Linked DNA regions of Homo sapiens. The protein of the gene in region 2 interacts with the protein of the main gene of each other region in a pairwise test. Each region holds a gene or a part of one and is shown on either strand. Other genes may lie near its edges.

What was found. Proteins that work in one complex are often made in the same cells at the same time.
Region 1: the proteins of ZNF396 (region 2) and ZSCAN1 interact in a two-hybrid assay, tested with the Homo sapiens proteins (one large-scale study listed by BioGRID and IntAct).

Annotation. Positions count from the first base shown.
Region 1 is NC_000019.10:58,035,907-58,041,236, reverse strand, and holds part of ZSCAN1 (zinc finger and SCAN domain-containing protein 1), read right to left. Parts: exon of another isoform or gene 5,268-5,330; 5' UTR 5,226-5,267; exon of another isoform or gene 4,755-5,225; coding exon of another isoform or gene 4,744-4,754; intron 3,510-4,743; coding exon of another isoform or gene 3,401-3,509; coding exon 3,031-3,400; intron 788-3,030; coding exon 693-787; intron 1-692. UniProt on the Homo sapiens protein: May be involved in transcriptional regulation.
Region 2 is NC_000018.10:35,366,186-35,371,515, forward strand, and holds the end of ZNF396 (zinc finger protein 396), read right to left. Parts: intron 3,476-5,330; coding exon 3,030-3,475; 3' UTR 2,261-3,029; coding exon of another isoform or gene 2,166-2,260; 3' UTR 509-2,165; downstream 1-508. UniProt on the Homo sapiens protein: Isoform 1 and isoform 2 act as DNA-dependent transcriptional repressors.

The DNA of each region.
Region 1 (5,330 bases), on a different chromosome or scaffold from region 2:
CATTCATTGTTCGACCGTGCTGTGTTTCCCTTGGCGGCTCCAATACCAAGATCCAGAGGCAGAAAGTGGTCAAACTCAGTAGCCCTGATCATACGAACACATGCTACTCACTTAGCAGTTCTTACTTTTGTTCTTTTGTGATTTACCCATTACCCCTGGATTTCTCTCATGTGTCTGCGTGTCCCCACCCCTGATTTTAATCTCTCCAGCCACACAGAGATCCGCTTGGCTCCCAACCGAGCCGGGCCCCTCCCGTCGCCTTGAGGCCTGCGCAACAGCAGGTCTAGCTGCAGGGGAGCCCTCAGCATTTCCTTCTGGGCCCGCCCAGAATCCTGGGTTCACTGAGGGAAGATGATCGGGGCAGCAGGACTTTCTCAACACACGCAGCATCTGGTGCGGGTGACACAGGAGGATGGGTCTTAACTGCGAGGCTGGGAAAGGACAGGAGGGGCTGGGGTGAGGCCCAGAGGCACACAGCAAACACACAGCTGCACTGACTGCCCTCGCCCAGCACTGAGCCCCAGGAAGCTTGGGGAATCTGTGGGGCAGGCGGGGAGTTTGGAGGCCGGGCTTCCTGGGAGCGCTGGGGACAACCTCACACAGTCCTTGGATGGGGCATCCTTGAGGCCGTCCCAGAAGCGGCACGCATGCCCTGGGGTGCAGGAGCACGGAGCTGGGGGCCCCGGGCTCACCTGCGATGGTTCTTTCTGGGACCTTGGACTCTTCCCATCTTCCTCCTCACCGAAACTCCAGTCCTGGGGTTCGACCGAGTCCAGAGATACCAGAACTGTGCGGGAGAAAGGGATCGTGAGAGGGGCCTGTTCTTCCCAGAGCCCCCAATTCTCCAGGCCTTCTGGGGAGGGCAGACTTTCCCCGAACATCCCTGCAGCACCCCTGAGGCGCAGGCAAGAGTGGCTGCAGGGCTGTCATTCTGTCCCTCCATGTGGCTGCTGGGCAGGAACCTGTGGTGACACCGAGGGCCGCTGAAGACAAGTACCCTCTTCACTCATACTCCACACCCCTGTGCGCCTCCAGAAGCCCACGAGGACACACACTGCAGCACTGACTAACTAGGGAGGCCCGAGCACTGTGAGCCCTCTGCTCCCCAAGCCCCCCGGGGCTGTGTGCACAGAGTGCACAGAGGACGACTGCTGAAGCAGGGTTCAGGACACCATTGACAGAAGGGTCAAGACGTGGGAACCAGGCCAGGCGTGGTGGCTCACACCAGTAATCCCAGCACTTTGGGAGGCTGAGGCAGGAGGACTGCTTGAGCCCAAGAGTTTGAGAGCAGCCTGGGCAACACAGCAAGACCCCCCCCTATTTATTTTTTAATTAAAAAAAGAAAAATTCAAGATCACGGCCACCTCTGGGGTGTCAGGCAGAGCGGGGGACAACAGGACTAGGAGACGTGCATGGGGGTTCAGCTGATTCCACTGGTTGTTCCTTTTTTTTTTTTTTTTTTTTTTGAGACGGAGTCTCGCTCTGTCGCCCAGGCTGCAGTGCAGTGGCGTGATCTTGGCTCACTGCAAGCTCCGCCTCCTGGGTTCAAGCGATTCTCCTGCCTCAGCTTCCTGAGTAGCTGGGATATAATATAGGCACGCGCCACCACGCCCGGCTAATTTTTGTATTTTTAGTAGAGACGGAGTTTCACCATGTTGGCCAGGCTAGTCTCGAACTCCTGCCTTGTGATCCGCCTGCCTTGGCCTCCCAAAGTGCTGAGATTACAAAGCATTTCCTAGGTTGGGCTTTGATAAGGGTGGGTGGCCGGTGCAGGGCTGTTCATTATACTTGCTCTACTGTTTCATAGGCTCAAAATATGGAATGTAGAAAGCAGACCACCGCTATGGAAGACAGATAGAGAGCCCTTTGCTCAAAAACGTTGAATTTTGAGAGTGACCATGGAACATTAAAACTAGCAAGGGTGGCTCTGGGCTGGGATGGCTGTGAGGTCCACAGAGCGCCAGAAGCCAGTGCTCTTGGGCCCTCTACCCCAGGATCAGAGAGTTCAAAGGGCCAATTCATCTGGCTTCTGCCTTGCAGCTTACAGGGCTACCCTTGAGCCTCTGGAAAGCTCAGCTGTCACAGCTTTCCTAAGTGTGGCACCGGCTGCCCTGGGGCAGTAAGGGGACCCTGGACCCTGTGTTCTGCAAACTGCTTATCACTGTTGGTCTACGGAAATGCTGTAGTGGGAGGGTGCAAAGGGAGGGCCTGTTCCTCTCCCTTGCTCCACCCCTCTTTTCTGTGAGCTCTGATGCAACCCTTCTCACTCCCAGCCTTTGCTCCTGCAGCGTGGCTGCCTGGCACCCTCCTTGCTGGGGCCCTGCTGGGGAAGCCCTCCCGAGGCCACAGTGCCACGACTGCTCTCACCATCCGTGGCTGCCTCTTTTGGCCTCCCAGTGTCCAATCCCTGCACTTTTGTCACTAGGAAAGAAAGAGCCCCACTCATGGGACTGGGCCCTGGGTGGATGGAATCTCGACGTGGGGTCACAGGGGCAAAGATGCAGAAGGACAAAGCCCTGTCAGGGGAGAGGGGAGCTGAGAGAGGAGACAGGGAGGGAGCCCAGTTTCAACCCCAAATTTCCCAGCTCCCAGAGTCGGGATGCAGACCTAAGCGTCTCTCCCCACCATCAGCCAGCGATGGGGCCTGCGCCCTGTGAAGGCTTAAGGATCTCTAGGATTCCTGAGTGTTGCAGGAGGCGCTGCAGGTGGCTGGGAGGAAGTGGCGAGGCAGCGTCCTTCCCAGAGAGCAGCCGTGAGGAGCAGCAGACACAAAGCCACAGGACAGATGGACGCATGGGAAATGGAGGGATCTTTAATCACCGACTGAGTGAGAAATTCGAGGCAGATGAGGCGTGCAGCACATTTATATGTAAAAATAATTAAAAACACAGCCGCGGGGCAGGAGAGGTTTGCTGGTCGGGAGGGGCCGGGCAGGGGTGGGAGCGATGTGGGCGGGAAGGAGGGCAGTTCGGTCCTCGGAGACGTCAGGCCCCCTGGCCCGGCCCGGGGCAGGAAGCCTGCGCCTCTCACCTTCCTGCTGGCACATCTGTGTGAGGTCCTCCACCAGGCTGGCGGCCTCCCTGCAGCTTCGGGGGCCCTGTGACTGCACCCAGGTCCGCATCTTGCTGGGCAGCGCGCCCAGGAACTGCTCCAGCACCAGCAGCTCCAGCATCTGCTCCTTGGAGCGCGCCTCGGGCCTCAGCCACTGGCGGCACAGCGTCCAGAGCTGGCCCAGCGCGAGGTGCGGCCCGCTCGCCACGTGGTACTGGAACTGCCGGAAGCGCAGACGCTGGGCTTCGGTGTCCCTGGGGCTTGCTGGCCCAGGGTCTGCGTCCTGCTCACTCGGGGTTGGGGTCTGGGGGCGTCTGGGGGAGGCAGGGGCTTTGGGCCGTGGAAGCATTTCTCTGGCCACAGTGCCCCTCTGAGGGGTGTGTGTGGACTGGATCCCGAGTCCCAGTGGCTCCGGACAGAGCCGGTGTGGCAGGCGGACAGAATCAGCAATCAGGGGCCTGCAGAGAGGGGCAGGGACAGAGGGGTCACATCAGATGGTGGCCCTCTGTACTCAGGATGCCCCTCGGCTCCTTACTTCCTTGTTCTGACCTCCAGCACCCCAAGGAACCAACCTGACCTCTTCCCACCTTCTGACCTAATCTTCCACATGCCTCTCACAGGCTACTTTGCACTGAGTTCAAGCCACTGGCTGCCCCAGGACCTTTGCACCTGCCATCCCACCCCAGCCCCTCCCCTTCCCACCCCAGCTCCTCCCCTCGCAGATGTCCTGGCCATCATCCTTATGGCACTGTCTTCATAACCTCCATGACTTTCTGAACACAACTTTTCCCCTTACTTAGTGTCTATCTCCCTCTCATTTAGTCATTCAACACACATTGACTGACGAGCTGCGGGAACAAGAATGCCTGCCCCGTGGTGTGGCCAGCACTGCCCAGTGAAGTTCCTACAGGGATGTAAAGATTCTCTACCCATGCAACCACCTACGTGTGGCTAGGAGCACCTGAAATAGGAACTGAATTTTAAATTTAAATTCCATTTAAATGGAAGCAGCCAGGTGGGCTACATAATAATGGATGACACCACCACCAGCAGCAGGTCTACCCATGGTGTTATCTTTGCTGTCTTCCTGACTTTCCTACCAGGTCCAAGCTGGGGGTGGAGACCAGGAAGAGGGCAAGGGAGACTGGAGACTCTGAAAAGAGAGGGAAAGTGGGAAGAGTAATTTTAAAATAACCTTTTGTGGCCGGGTGCCGTGGCTCACACCTGTAATCCCAGCACTTTGGGAGGCCCGGGTGGGTGGATCACCTGAAGTCAGCAGTTCAAGACCAGCCTGACCGACATGGCGAAACCCCGTCTACTAAAAATACAAAAATTAGCCGGCGTGGTGGTGCACACCTCTAATCCCAGCTACGTGGGAGGCTGAGGCAGGAGAATTGCTCCAACCCAGGAAACAGAGGTTGCAGTAAGCCAAGATCGCACCACTGTACTCCAGCCTGAGTGACAGCGTGAGATTCCATCCCAAAAAAAATAAATAACCAAAAATGAGTTGGGCGTGGTGGCACGCACCTGTAATCCCAGCTACTCGGGAGGCTGAGACAGGAGAAATGCTTGAACCCAGGAGGCGGAGATTGCAGTGAGCTGAGACTGTGCCACTGCACTCCAGCCTGAGCGACAGAGTAAGACTCTGTCTCAAAAAAAAAAAAAAAAAAGAAAAGAAAAAAAAGAAGTTACCTTTTGTACATTTTCCAAGCCGACTATGGTGAACATATAACTGAAGAAAACATTAAAAGTTGTAAAAATAAAAATAAGCAGGGAGGTTTCGTTTGTTTGTCTTTAACAATTGTACTCTGGACTGATCCGCTGGTGAGAATATAAATTGGCACGACCTTTCTGGAAAGCACTGTGGCCATTTATATATCAAGAACACTTGGTAGACTGCGTGCAAGATGCGAGATTCAGGCACCAAGATTCACTACAAAAGTGCCCAACAGTTGAACGTGGTGGGATCAACTACCTCCCCCATCATGTGATGGGAGTATTCAACCGTGCCCAGTACACAACACTATGACATGACCACGGGGAGTAGACACATGATGTACAGATGACATGAGGCACAGGGAACGTGGGATGCAGGATGATGCGTGAGTGTCATAGAAAGGGAGTCCTGGGAAGACGCCCATGGGGGGCGGCCAAGTGCTTTGTGCTGTTCATACTTCTCTGAATCTCCTCCAAATGGTGTCGGGCTCCCATGTGACCTTCATCAACATGGAAAAACAAAACAAAACAAGACATCTTTAGGAAGGATTTTTGACCATATG
Region 2 (5,330 bases):
AACCCCCATCTGGCCTGCTTTCCCTCTAGAGGTTGAAAACGCTTGCCCTACCAGACACAGTTGCAACAGGGAAACATAAGCCAGATTTTGCTAAGGTTTTTGGAAAGCTTTTTGCTTAGCATGGCTGTCTTTCTCCTTTCTTCCTGACTTAATCCTAGTTCCTAGAGCTGTGACAGCTCTCTCGAAAATCGGACAAAATAGCATGAGGTAAAGTTAGACCAGTCGTCATTCCAGCTGCAGATTGAGAGCCAGCAACCCACCTTCCAGATTTCAGGTTGAAAATTCCTATTTGTTTAAACCACCAAAGATGGATTTTGCATCCAGAAGCATTCCTAACACAAAGGCTTGCTGTTTTAAGCCACTGTTGTAAGGACAGTGATGAACATTTGACTTGGTCTCTGAAGAGAATGGGAGTGGTAAACAAAAACAAACAAAAACAAACAAACCATATAGGATTATTGGTAATCTTGAAGGCCCAGATGAAGTGAAAGCCAGAAAACAATACCAATTTCATTTTGGAGTATTTACTATCCCTGAAAATTAATATAATGGGGGTGCTAATGCTAATTTTTAAAACCAAGGTTAGCTCAATGAATTCTCCTTTTATATAAACTAGTACCATTCACTCATTAGGATACCTACATAACTGCAAAATAATTCAAAGTACACAGAGACACCCTTTAAAGATTCATCATATACTTAGACGATATGATTCATACCACTTTCCTGTGGAAACACTCAAATTATTCACAATAAATAGAATGCAATCTTACAAAGTTGATGGCAGCACCAAGTGAAGATGGGTGCTTCCTTCAAAATACTTGATTTAGATTCTGCCATCTTATTCACATAGAACCTAAGAAACTCTTTCCGTAATTAAGCAGTAATTCACAATATATACATCTCTGAGGCACTTGTTGTTTCAATAGATGGTTTGTTCCTCTCCGTAATTACAAAGACAATGAGCCCCAAATAAAAAGTATCCTACATTTTTAGTGACTCAAGATACACACAACTCAATATAAAATTCATATTCACTAGAGCTACAAATCATAATCACTATCAGAAAATTCTATAATAAAATTTACATTCACTTCTCCTCCTACTAATCTTACATTTATCAGCATACTAACTAAGCAGAGTGTGGTAATTCCACATATTTGGAGCTCCTCTAAGCCAGTTTCTGGAGATACTCTAAGATATGGTTGGATTTTCTGAGAATGAAATGTTTTATACTTTATGAGGAACCCAACCAGACAAAGAAGTTTACTATGAGTCTCTTCCCTTATTCCAAGGACTTTGATTTCTGATGTTTGCCTCCATATTGTGTAACTGTAGCACCATGGAAAACACAATACATGTATTATTGTAGTAACATTACAGAGTTTTATCAAGAATCTCTGGAAAATAGATAATTTTGTTGTTTGTATACTGTCAGAATAATTTTAATAATGTACGATTCAGTAATTTTAAACAGGGAATCTGGCTGAATTAAATGCAGGTAAAACATAGTTACTCATATCCCATAGATAAGCCAAATAAGATATCCCATAAATGTCTTAAAACTTATAAACTATAATGGTTAGGTTCAACAATTGTTTATAAGGGACTGCAGTGGACCCTTTAAATTGAACTTCAGTGATTTGTCCATATGTACAAGAGCATCAAAATCCAGGGTCTCATTTCATGACAGCGTGTCTAGAAACTCATCTTACTAAGAATACAGAAGACTCTGAAAAGGTTGTCTTGTGATGCTTGAAACATATTCATAGTTGATTTATGCCAGAAAAGGGGACACTGAAAGTATTGTCATCAGCAGTTACGGGCTTCCTCTTCCAGTTAAGCTGTGGTACATCTCTCCGACACACACTGTACTTGACAACACTTGTGGTACATCAGTCTTGTTTGACAATTTTGTTCATCTCCCTTTTTTCTTTATATTAAGATGATCATCCATCTTACAGAAGCACCCATAGATTAATATTGTTATGAAAACATTCCTTATGTTTAGCTGACTCCTTGTAGACAAGCAGTCATTTTCATGTTTCCATTGACTTATTTCCAAATTACATTGCAAAGGAGATTATTTTTTTCCAACACGGGAAATTAACTTGATATTAATAGTATGGAGGCTCTTGTGTGCTTTCATAAGATAAGGCCTTTATTTATCTGCCTCCTGAAAGTGACCTGGGGCACTTCAGCCTAGTCTTGAAGTACATATTCTTTTGGGCCTCTGCAATCGCATGTTCATATTTTGAATCTAGTAACAGAAGACAAAATAGGAATTTATTTTTATTTTTATTTATTTATTTATTTATTTATTTATTTATTTTAAAGACGGAGTCTTGCTCTGTCTGAGCGGTTCAAGCAATTTTCCTGCCTCAGCCTCCCTAGTAGCTGGGATTACAGGTACACGTTGCCATGCCTGGCTAATTTTTTGAATTTTAGTAGAGACGGGGTTTCGCCGTGTTGTCCAGGCTGGTCTTGAACTCCTGAGTTCAGGCAATCTGCCTGCCTCGGCCTCCCAAAGTGCTAGGATTACAGGCATGAGCCAACCGCACCCAGCCAGGAATTCTTTTTGAGTGCTTTAATTTTTGGTCTTTAGAATTCTAGTGCTCAAGTTATGAAATGGAGGAGAATGTCTATTTTTACACTGAGTAACTCACACATTCCTTCTCAATGAGGGAAAAAACATACTTGTCTAAAAAGATATATACTAATTCATTATATGTGTTAATAATGAAAATAGTAGAACATGTCTGAGAATGCCTTTTCAAGGCCTGCATAGGGATGGAAATCTGAATTAAGCTTTGGAATTGCAAACGTCAGAATTGAGACTGCATTGATAAGCAGAAAAGCAAATAATGCTGACCTGAGATCTTCAACCTTCTCTCCTGTGGCTTTCATGAGTCTTGAAAGGAGACTGGTGCTTACTAAGACCACTGATTTGTACTAAGGAGCGTTTGCATCTGGTGTCTTCCCTTGTGCTGAAATAGCTCTGAGTAAATGCTTTGATTCCCTCATGATACTTATGGGACTTTTTTTCTAATGTGTCTTTTCCTATGTCTAAAAAGATTTGAGCTCTGACTAAAGGCTTTGCCACAGTCATGACACTTGTAGGGCTTCTCACCAGTATGGGTTCGTCGATGCTGAATCAGAATTGCGCTTCGGCTGAATGCCTTTGCACACTCGTCACATGCATAAGGTTTCTTTCCACTGTGGATTCTCTGATGTAAAATAAGGGCTGAGCTCTGACTAAAGATTTTGCCACATTCATCACATTTCTGTTGTTTTTTCCAAGAAGGGTTTCCTTGTCTCTTTTCAAACCTACCATCTTGTTCATAGGTTCCTCTATATGTGGAACTCTGGGAGCCATTCATATGAAGGATATTGGAAACATTGCAATGCAGTTCTATGCCTAAAGAAGTCTTTTGCCTTGAAGCAGATTTCACATTTGTAGTTTTGATGTCTTCATCTGAAATGGAAAAACAAATGTCACCAGGAAAGAGAAAGGATGATCCAAATGAAATATACATGATTATTGCTAGCATGTTTATAAAACAACACACAATGTGAAGGACGGAGAGTGTAAGACAAAATATTGAGAAGTTTATATAAGACATAGAGAAAGGTTTACATACTGAGGAGGCAGTCAACTAAACTGTAAAGTTGCAAAGTTCTATGGAAAAGACAGAATAGGGAATAAGGATAAAAAGATATGTCAGAGACTAAGGAAAGTCTGGAAGGAAAGAAAGGGCTTAGAAAGAAGAAATGATTGGAGACACAGAGAGCTAGAAGGAGAGGAATCCAATGTGCCAGTGGGAGTAACAAACAAGATTTAGTACTGGAGTATCAATAAATAAATAAAGCTTAATATTCATAAAGGAATCAGTAACTATGCAAAGAAATGAGCTGAAGAAAGCCAAGGGGCCAAAAAGGAATGTGGAAAATAAAGTAAGAAAATATAAGTTAGGCCAATAAAGGGAAGATTATAGACTAGGATAACTAGTACCTCAAAAGATCAAGGGTAGCAGAGTACCCACTGATGAAAAACCTCTACTCCTGTATGGATTTTATATTACTGGTTGAATCGCTGTTTGTTGTATTATTTTGTATTACATTTAACATCCATGAAAAACGTACATGGCTGCTTATGGGCTGCGGCCACTCAGGCGGCACACAAACCTGGCTTGATGCAGAGGGCCTTATGACTCAGGGTGCCTAAAGCTCCAGCAGAACTGCTAACTCAGATGTGAAAATGCCAGTGTAATGTGGTTGCATTACCTGAAGAAATCACTTCAGTTATCCTCATGGTGGCATTTTTTTTTTTTTTTTTTTTTTTTTTGAGACGGAGTCTCGCTCTGTCGCCCAGGCTGGAGTGCAGTGGCGGGATCTCGGCTCACTGCAAGCTCCGCCTCCCGGGTTCACGCCATTCTCCTGCCTCAGTCTCCCAAGTAGCTGGGACTACAGGCGCCCGCCACTACGCCCGGCTAATTTTTTGTATTTTTTAGTAGAGACGGGGTTTCACCGTTTTAGCCGGGATGGTCTCGATCTCCTGACCTCGTGATCCGCCCGCCTCGGCCTCCCAAAGTGCTGGGATTACAGGCGTGAGCCACCGCGCCCGGCCCATGGTGGCATTTTAACTGAAGCTGCTGAAAGACAGGAGCTTAAAATGAGTTTATAAAAGCAAAGTACAACAGTTTTGGACATGTCTGGGGAGATGACTTGGCTGGGGCTGACTGTGACTACTGGGGGTGCCTTTATCTGAAGTAATTATATAAATAAGATTAAAAGCAACCCAGAGAGGTACTGATGATAAGTGATTCCCTGGGCCCTCTCAAGGCCTAATGAAAAGGTTAGGGTGAGAAAGGTAGTCTGGGGAGAAGAATTAGTGATGCAATGTGATACTGAATAAGAAAACTGAGTTGTTGTTTTACTCTTTAGAATTTACTTAAAATGGATCTACCTGCTGTCTCTACAATCTCCTTAGAATCACCCAACATAAGCTCAAATCTTAACATAAGCCCTTCCCAATTCCTTCTTAATGACACACCCCATAGTTTCTGTGCCGTGTTCTCTTTCTTGCTGCAGCAAACTAAATAAACCTAACTTGAAAAAATATATAAAAATCAAATCAAATGGGTCTAAATAGTTATTACAAAAGGAATTTAAAATTATTTATTGTATTTATTCACAAATATGGTGTCTCAGTCCATTTTCTGTTGTTTAGAATAGAATACCTGAACTTGAGTAATTTATTTATAAAAAGAATTTATTTCTTATAGTTATGGAGGTTGAGAAGTCCAGGGTGGAGGGGTGCATCTGGTGAG